2 linked regions of the Homo sapiens genome follow. The protein of the gene in region 1 purifies or fractionates together with the protein of each later gene. This does not show direct contact. Each region holds a gene or a part of one and is shown in the gene's direction. Other genes may lie near its edges. The genes, in order: MSC and ACTR3B.

Region 1 (4,462 bases):
AAACCTTTGCAAATGTGGGTGAGCCGGAGGGGTTATGTGAAACATTCCCCCGGCCCCAAAACGCCCCTGCTAAGGGTAGCGTGGCCTGGGAGACTAAGGTGGAATGATGCCTGAGTGATGAAGTCAGCCTCTGCCAGCCACCTGTTGCAGCACTTCAGCCATCGAGCTGGACGCATTTGTTCTGCTGTACGAACTGGCGGGAGCCAGGCTGGCCCAGCTATCTCTGCCAGCTCTGTCCTGGACTGACTCCACATAGGTCCCCTTGCACCTTGCTCAGCTTGGGAGCCTGTGGACTTTCAGGAAAAGAACAAGTGAACACCTAAGCCTGTGTGACGACTCAGTTTCATCATTGTAAAATGGGGTAACCATATGCCAAACTCATACGGGTTTTATTACTCAGTGAGCTGCTCACAAGCCGCGAGTACAGTGACGGGCACACAGCGGGCACTCAGTCTCTGACCACTGGGGCCCGTATCCACAGACGTACTTATCCCCTGACCAGGAACTGCGATGACCTTCGAGTTAGGAAATAATGAGACTGCAAAATTGTTGTGTTTTCTTGTGTGGAAGAGCAGGATGTTTTAGTCTTGTTTGGAATGGAACATGATCATTCAGGGTGCTCCTTTGTCGTTTTTACTTTGAATGGACGATTGTGCTAACTTAGCATTCTGCTTCCAGGAGCTCGCTCTTCAATACACAATCTATTAAATACAATAGCAAGGATTCCCTACATTATAATGCAAAGCTTTAGGGCCGGATCCTCCAACACACGCATTGTGGTATTAAAACAAAATCACATCACGCATGGAACTCTCAAGATAGTGGAAAATACCAGCTACAACATCCAGTGATGTGTGACCCGGAGGCACGGAGCTGACTAGAATACCGACGGGCCAGAATTTCAAAACGCGGATTTTGAATCTTTTTTTCTACTTAGCCTAATAAGTTTGGGTCTTTTACTTAACGTCTATCTAGGCGGCTCAGCTTCAAGTTCTGCAAATTGGAGATAATATCATTAAGTTACAGATGTTATTTGAAAAGGCAACGAACCATTGTAACCATTTTTGTAAACCATGAAGGTATATTATAAGAAAAGGAGGAGGAAAATGAGAGGTAACTTGTGCATTGTTGGATGTTGTTTGCCTGTTCTGCTTTTTCTCTTGTCCAGCAAGGCTTGGGTAGACAATCATACATCATGAATGGTTAACTTGAAAACTGAGTTCTACTGGAAAGACTGGCAGGCAAGCAGAGGTCGGAATCCCGTCGTTTCTAAGTGTCTGGTAATCTTTGCCACTGCTAAGATTACCTGGGGGTAGAAGCACCGTCGGTAGGAACAAGATGTGCCCCTTCACTCCCCGAAAGCTCACTTATCCTGCGCAGACATGTTGAAGGGCCGTCGGGCTTCAGAGCCCAAATCTCGGCTCTGCAGAGACGTCCCCTTCCCCCGCCTCCACCAACCGCTCTTCGGCATGCAGAAAAGCGGTCCCCACCCCTTCCACGCCCCTGCCCCACCTCTTGGCCCCCTTTACAACCCCCTCTTCTTTGCCCGGGGTGGTTTGTTCCAAGGAGTACAGATAGCCTTTTCAAAAGGCGCAGCTTACCGCGGTGCGCGCGGATTCTGGACTTGGGCGCCAACTCGTAGTCCACGCTCCCCGGGGTCAGCAGAGGGGCGCTCACGCTCTCGCCACCCACCTCGCTTTCTCACCCCGCGCTTCCCGGCCTGGGTTTTTAGTCTTCCTTGGAGCGCTCTCTGGCCTCCGCCTCCGCCAGGGAGCGGAAGGCGGAGACAGCGAGACTGGCCAGGGGGGAGGAAAGAGGACGCGTGTGGGCAAGGGGGACAACGGGATGTCCACGGGCTCGGTGAGTGATCCGGAGGAGATGGAGCTTCGGGGGCTGCAGCGGGAGTACCCGGTCCCCGCCTCCAAGAGGCCGCCCCTCCGCGGCGTAGAGCGCAGCTACGCCTCGCCCAGTGACAACTCGTCGGCAGAGGAGGAGGACCCCGACGGCGAGGAGGAGCGCTGCGCTCTGGGCACAGCCGGCAGCGCGGAAGGCTGCAAGAGGAAGCGGCCCCGTGTGGCTGGGGGCGGCGGCGCAGGTGGTAGCGCGGGCGGTGGTGGCAAGAAGCCCCTCCCGGCCAAGGGCTCAGCCGCAGAGTGCAAGCAGTCGCAGCGGAACGCGGCCAACGCCCGTGAGCGTGCCCGGATGCGCGTGCTGAGCAAAGCCTTCTCCAGGCTCAAGACCAGCCTGCCCTGGGTGCCCCCCGACACTAAGCTCTCCAAGCTGGACACGCTCCGGCTGGCTTCCAGTTACATCGCTCACCTGCGGCAGCTGTTGCAGGAGGACCGCTATGAGAACGGCTACGTGCACCCAGTGAACCTGGTAGGGGCGCGGCGCGCAAGGATTCGGGAGAGCAGCCAGGAGATACCCAGGGCGCTCCTGGGCGCCGGGCAGGGTCAGCCCGTTGGGAAGAATTCGAAAGGGGTGGAGGTTCTGGGACTGGGAACGAGAAGGCCAGTTTAGTTTCTCCCAAATCAAGGGAGTGGCCAGCCATTTCCCTGAAGAAGAATCAACCCTCCGTGTCTGTTTGCATCGTTCTGAACATTGTACCCCAGTGACAGCCATTGACTAATATCCTACTTCCAGGGTAAATCTTGGTTCCATCTCCATCTGCCACCAGGTTGCAGACTGACGGCAAATCTCCCTTGCCCAACTTAATCCAGCTGAGTCGGGCAGGTTTGAATCGGCAAGCCCTTTCTTAAAGGAGGGAAGGCCGAGCTCTATAAAAGAGCATTTGCATTTTTAGAAAAATTGCTTGTGGAAGATAGTAACGTTTCCCCAGATGGGATTTATCTGGAAAGTCCCTCTCTGATCTGCCAGCTCTCCCGGCTTGGGAAAAATCCTGTCCAAGCCCAGTTCCTACTTGGAGCTTGGAGTGGATGACTGTGTGTGTGTGTGTGTGTGTGTGTGTGTGTGCGTGTGTGTGTGTGTGTGTTGGGGAAGGGAACTAAACGACAGAACCTCAAAGTCAGATGAGTTTCACCAAATTATCCTGCGGGCAAAGTCCAGGAAGAAGCGTGAACGGATATGGCAAGTCTCGGATTATCAACCTCCAGTAAAATGAAAATCTTAGTTCAGAGAGAGGACATGCAAATTCCCAGAATGCTGATAAAATCTTAGCTACTCCAAGTCAGGAATATCTGGGGTTCGCGTAGGAGAGCTGTTTCGGTTTGAGACAATCGTTTCTCTCTAATATCTCACGTTCTTTTTGATTTACAGACATGGCCATTCGTGGTCTCGGGAAGACCGGACTCTGACACCAAAGAAGTTTCCGCAGCCAACAGACTATGTGGAACCACCGCTTAAATCGGACTGGAACTCACTTGATGGGATTATTCGTTAAATGCGAGTGTTTGGGGGCCACGGAGAGAAGGGAGAGCTCGTGAGATGGGAAGAAGTTTCCGCTGGATTCTCCTTGACCCTTCCCCTTTCCCTGGAACTGTGATCGTGACAGGTGGCGGGTGTGGCTGTCACTGCACAGCGCCCACGGCTACAGCTGCGCCGGATCTGGGCGACCACGTTTTGCCTCTCCAAAAAGAGCTTCCTTTCGTGACGAGACGCGGACGCAGGTCCACCCTCGGGCCCTAGCTCTGTAGACTAACTCTCGGCTGCTGCCCCAGCCCGCGCCAGACAGCCCACGGATCCGTTCTCAGCGGAGCCAGATTCATCGCACACGTGCGGGACGGTTCCACACAGCCCCGGCCTTTCGCGGTGACACAATGGTTAGGGAACGGTTAGAACGCGCTCTACATCCGCTTTAAAGACAGAGGTCTAGACGTGAGATCCGCGTCGGGACAGGGTTTTAAGTGACAAAGAAGGGCGAGTGGCTTCTCTGGGCCGGGTTCGTACTCCAGCACAGCGCCCTTCTAACGGGCGGGAGGAAGGCCGCTGCTCGCAGGGCTAGGTGGAGACACACTTCCCAGATCACCGCAGGCGGGTTTTACCCGGAGAGCTCTGGGCCGTTCGGCCTCCCTGCCGGGTGGCTTCTTCAATCCCGTCTCCTTCCCAAGCTCCCGGCTTTTTCTAATCAGGCAGGCGTCTGTCAACCCTCTCCACTTCTGGGCTGAAGCCTCCCCAAGCCCCGCTGCGCCAACCTGTGTGGGGTCTTCTTCGGGCCTCCCTCTCCGCCCCGCTCCTGCTCCTACCTGCAGCACCCCCAGCTCCGACTCCAGACTCTCTGCATCAGGTCTCCCCACTCCACGCTCCGGGCGCCCCAACTCCAACACCACGTCCTGCCGCGCAGGTTCTTCCCCGCGCGGAGGAGCGCGCAGGGTGGGCGGCTTACCATAGCAAGTGATCCTGCGATAGGGAACGCGCCCTTGCCCCGAGGCTGCACTACCACAGGAAATAACATATGTAAATAAATTTATTTTTTTATGAATAATAAAACGCGCTGTAAAAACCG
Region 2 (4,571 bases), on another chromosome or scaffold:
CAAGGCAGGGCTTTGGCAAAACACAAAGCAAGCCAGCCAATCTTTAACCCCAGCCTTGGGCTTCTAAACTGGGATTCCTCCACACTTACTCCTTTTTATTTTCCTCCCATTTGCTTCTCTCTTCAGTTCTCCTGAACATTCTCTAGGTCTGGGCCTTAATGGGTACTTATGAGTTAAAAAAAAGAAATGATGATGGGTTACCTAGGAGTGGTCAACGTATCTATTACTTCTAGGTAAAAAACACAATGTTTTAAGTACCTGTAAAAACAACATGTCTTGGCTGGGCGTGGTGGCTCATGCCTGTAATCCCAGTACTTTGGGAGGCTGAGGCAGGCAGATCACGAGGTCAGGAGCTCAAGACCAGTCTGGCCAGCATGATGAAACCCTGTCTCTACTAAAAATACAAAAAATTAACCGGGCATGGTAGTGGGTGCCTGTAATCCCAGCTACTTGGGAGGCTGAGGCAGGAGAATTGCTTGAACCTGGGAGGCGGAGTTGCAGTGAGCCGAGATTGCGCCACTGCACTCCAGCCTGGGCGACAGAGTGAGACTCATCTCAAAAAACAAAACAAAACAAAAAAATACATGTTTCCAGAAAGCTCCTAAAAAATTAGTATCAAGAATTTACGATCGGGCAAGAAGCAGGAAGCAAGTGGCAAGTGGGACTCTCAGTACCTTTATAATATAGTAGGTGGTGTTTGCCTTCTTTGGTTTCAGTAAGAACTTTTGGGCGATCATCCCATCTTCGACACTTGAAAACATTTTCCAGGAGTGATCTTGGTGTGGTTTACTCAGTCTAAGGCCATTCATTCCTTAAGGCTGGCCAAGCATTTGTTTTGCAGATTTTTCTTCTTAGAAAAATTTAGGCCGTGTTAGGTATAATAATTCCAACTAATTTTTTTTGTTGTTTTTTTGAGACAGACTCTCGCCCTGTTGTCCAGGCTGGAGTGCAATGGCGCGATCTTGGCTCACTGCAACCTCCGCCTCCCAGGTTCAAGCGATTCTCCTGCCTCAGCCTCCGGAGCAGCTGGGATTACAGGCACCCGCCACCACGCCCGGCTAATTTTTGTATTTTCAGTAGAGAAGGGGTTTCACCATGTTGGCCAGGCTGGTCTGGAACTCCTGACCTTGTGATCCACCCTCAGCCTCCCAAAGTGCTGGGATTACAGGCGTGAGCCACCGCGCCCGGCCAATTCCAACTAATTTTTTTTTTTTTTTTTATTATATGGGGAAGGTTACTCAGTCATTCAACAAACATTTGGGCACTTCCACAGGTACACCAAATACTGTGCTAAGCACCTGCTGCTCATCAATAGTGATTAAGACAGACTCAAGCCCTATCCTAGAAGATTTGATAGTCCAGTAGGGGAGGCAGACAACAAATACATAAATATAAAAATATAAACACTTTGCTTTAAGGGTTAGGAATGAAACCAACAGATTGTTGAGACAGAGGATACAGTACCGGTAGGGGACATAGTCAGGGTGATCAGGAACAACTTCCCTCGCAAGGTGACATTCGAGCGAAGACTTACAGGAGGAGAAAGGCGCCAGGCCTCGGAAATGGGGTCACGTTCATGTAAGTCAGTTAAAAATAAACCCCAATCTCTCCAGCAGCAAGGTTGGACGTATGGGGCCAAGAAGCCTCGCTGCCAGCACTAAAGATGGCGCGCCGGAGTGGGGGTGGGGGTGTTGGGGGAGGCGGGGCGTGCGCGCGTTCTGATTGGCCGACCGGGGAGTGACGTCACGTGTCGGCCGCCGAGCATCCGGGCTCCCGGCAGCGGCGCTGCGGCGGCTCGCGGGAGACGCTGCGCGCGGGGCTAGCGGGCGGCGGAGCGGACGGCGACGGGGCGCTCTCGGGCTGCCGGCGGGGCCGAGCGCCGCGCGTCCCGAGCATGGCAGGCTCCCTGCCTCCCTGCGTGGTGGACTGTGGCACCGGGTAAGAGCAGCTCGGCGCCCACCCCCGCTCCTCCGCGGCCCCGCTCCCGGCCCCTGGCGTCCACCTCGCCTGGAGGTCGAGCTGCGTCCGTCGCCCCGGGCTTGAGCCCCGCGATCACCTGGGCAGGTGGGGCGCCGGCCGCCGCTTCCCTCCAAGCCTTGCCTTGACGTCGTAAAACCCCCTCTTCCCTGCCGGGAAGGGCCACAAGAGGAAAAGCACGGAGGGTAGGGACGCGGTGCCCACTCTGAGCGAGCCCGGCGCTCCTCGCCTCCCCCGCCCACGTGGCCGGGCCCCTGGACCCGCAGCCCGGCTCCGGCCGTCGCCGGGGTGGACACCCTGAGGGACACCGGGAGCGCGGGATCTCCCCTCCTAGGAATATTCGCCAGCGTGAGGCACAGATCATCACTGCAGATCCTTTAACGTCACTCATCTCCTAGTGAACGGTGTCCCTGCCTTCCAGCGTTCTCAGCACTGGCCCTCGTTCTGTCCCCGCGTGTGCGTGTCATTCCTCCTGGCTGAGGATTCTTTACCACCTACTTGTGGAGAGAATAGCATCGATCTCCCAACTTGATACCATTTTTACTGCCCTCCCTGCGCTTTTCCAGTATGAAATGGCACACTCAGGCCAAGCTGTCCCTTTGGTTTGCATAGATTTGCCTTTTCGCTGAAAAATGATGTGTTTAAAAAGACTCCATTTTGAAAAATACCCTAAATTTGGGAGAGCATGTTTGTGGAATTGTGGTAGAGGTTTTTGTTTTTAACTTTTTGAGTGTGACCACTTCTTTCGTTGCCGTTAAGCTATTAAAAAGAGATCTTAGGAAATGCCCTGAAGTATCGGTGACCCAAGTTAGCTGGTTGTAGTAAGGTGATTGCTGAATCCATGTAGCTGGTAGTTTGGGAATACAAGCTTGCCTGCCTGCGTTATGGGTGTAGTGCTTAGTAAAATAGCCTGGAAGTAAATTTGGTCTCTTAGCGATTTTTTTCAAGAAGGGATTTTAATCATTTTTGCCACAAAATGTAACATGGCATGTTCACCTTACCCTTGATTCTTTTCTATAGAAAAATGCACTTGGTTTGGTTTCCTTGACAACCTTGTGGGGGTGCCTTCTTTAGTTTGCTACAGTCCATCTCCTACTGTTAGTTCCTTCCTTTTGCTGCTGAAGCGACCAGAAGTGGTTGTGGACTGGAAAAATCCTCTTTGCTTGTGTGAATTCTTTTTGAAATACACGTCATATCAAGCTTTGTAGCTCTTTATTTTAGAACTTGCTTTTCTACCTAAAACACAAGCCAAAATCAGCGTTGTCGATACTACAGCTCCCCTCCCTCAATTATTGACACCCTTAACTCATGCCCTCCCCCAATGGGTTCACCTCAGGTCCCCTCAGGTCTGGTTGTGTCAAGAGTGAAACCAGTGGGTGAAAGTATTTTTCATTTCCACATTTGCATGTGAGATTTTTGCTTTGTAGTTTTAGTCTTGCAGAACTATTAAAATATAAAGGAATTCTTGGTAGTAGCAATAAAATAATGCTCACAGAGTTGTCATACCTTTAAGATTAGTAAGTCGTGGACCTTACTCATCTTTCTTGCTATAAATACCTAAAATGTCGTGCTCAGTTTTGACCTTTTGAGGTAAGTGATTAATGTAACTTGGCTAACTTGGAGATTCAACTTCTATAGATCATTGTTTTGTGGCCCAAAGTCATGCTTCAGAAGTTGGTGTCAAGACTTAGAAACGGTGGCAGGGAATCTCCATATGAATTCCCCATATCGAGTGTATGGCCAGAAGGAGCCTGAAAGAGCCCGAATTTACCAACTTGAGCACATCAGTAGTTCTTACATTTCCCAGAGAGCCAAAATGATTTTTGGATTTAGTTTTGCCTCAAAATAGGACAAAAAGTGGTAAAATTCAGATAAAAATAACCAAGCCAAAGGAAAAGAACGGACCTAGGAAGTCACCCTGAGCTTTAGCCCAGTGGCTGCTGAAGTTGGTCCGCACATTCGACCTTAGTCTTCCTGTCTGACAACATCATAAGAGTCATGGTTATGTAATTCCTGTCATCAGAAATCAAGAGAAATACCTGTTTCTTGGGTGAAAAAAGCCTTTTTTTGTAGTACTAAATTGTAAAAGCATTGAGCTATACATAGTGGGCACTAATGATTTATTGGACAGTGTGATAAACAGTATTTTTTACAAATAAATTTCATCCCAGTATCCTTGAATCCTCCTCAGGTAAACCCCGAGACTACCTGAGTAAGCAGTGATGTGCTGGAGGCCAGGATAATATGGACAAAGGGATCTGCTGAGTCCAAAAATAAAGCTTCATCTATTTAAAGGGATGACTAGGCTGCATAGTTTTCAGAGAATATTTCACAACTCCGGTCTCACTTCTCTGAGCCAAACTTTTCAAATGAAGTCTTTTGCATTTTTCAACTTTTTTTGAAATAATTTCAAATCTACTGAAAGCTGGAAGAGAACAAAAAACTACTGTATACTCTTCTTCCAGTTTTACCAACTGTTAACATTTGCTTTGTCACTCTCTGTATGTCCATACATATTATTATTACTTTCCTGCACTGTTTGAGAGTAAGTTGCAGAGATCATACCCTTTTATATCAAAATACTTGAATGCGTA

Evidence for each region.
Region 2: the proteins of MSC (region 1) and ACTR3B purify together in Homo sapiens (affinity purification with mass spectrometry; one large-scale study listed by BioGRID and IntAct). This does not show direct contact.

Annotation. Positions count from the first base shown.
Region 1 is NC_000008.11:71,841,562-71,846,023, reverse strand, and holds the start of MSC (musculin), read left to right. Parts: upstream 1-1,611; 5' UTR 1,612-1,845; coding exon 1,846-2,379; exon of another isoform or gene 2,380-2,901; intron 2,902-3,276; coding exon 3,277-3,363; 3' UTR 3,364-4,462. UniProt on the Homo sapiens protein: Transcription repressor capable of inhibiting the transactivation capability of TCF3/E47. May play a role in regulating antigen-dependent B-cell differentiation.
Region 2 is NC_000007.14:152,757,989-152,762,559, forward strand, and holds the start of ACTR3B (actin-related protein 3B), read left to right. Parts: upstream 1-1,763; 5' UTR 1,764-1,894; coding exon 1,895-1,938; exon of another isoform or gene 1,939-2,064; intron 2,065-4,571. UniProt on the Homo sapiens protein: Plays a role in the organization of the actin cytoskeleton.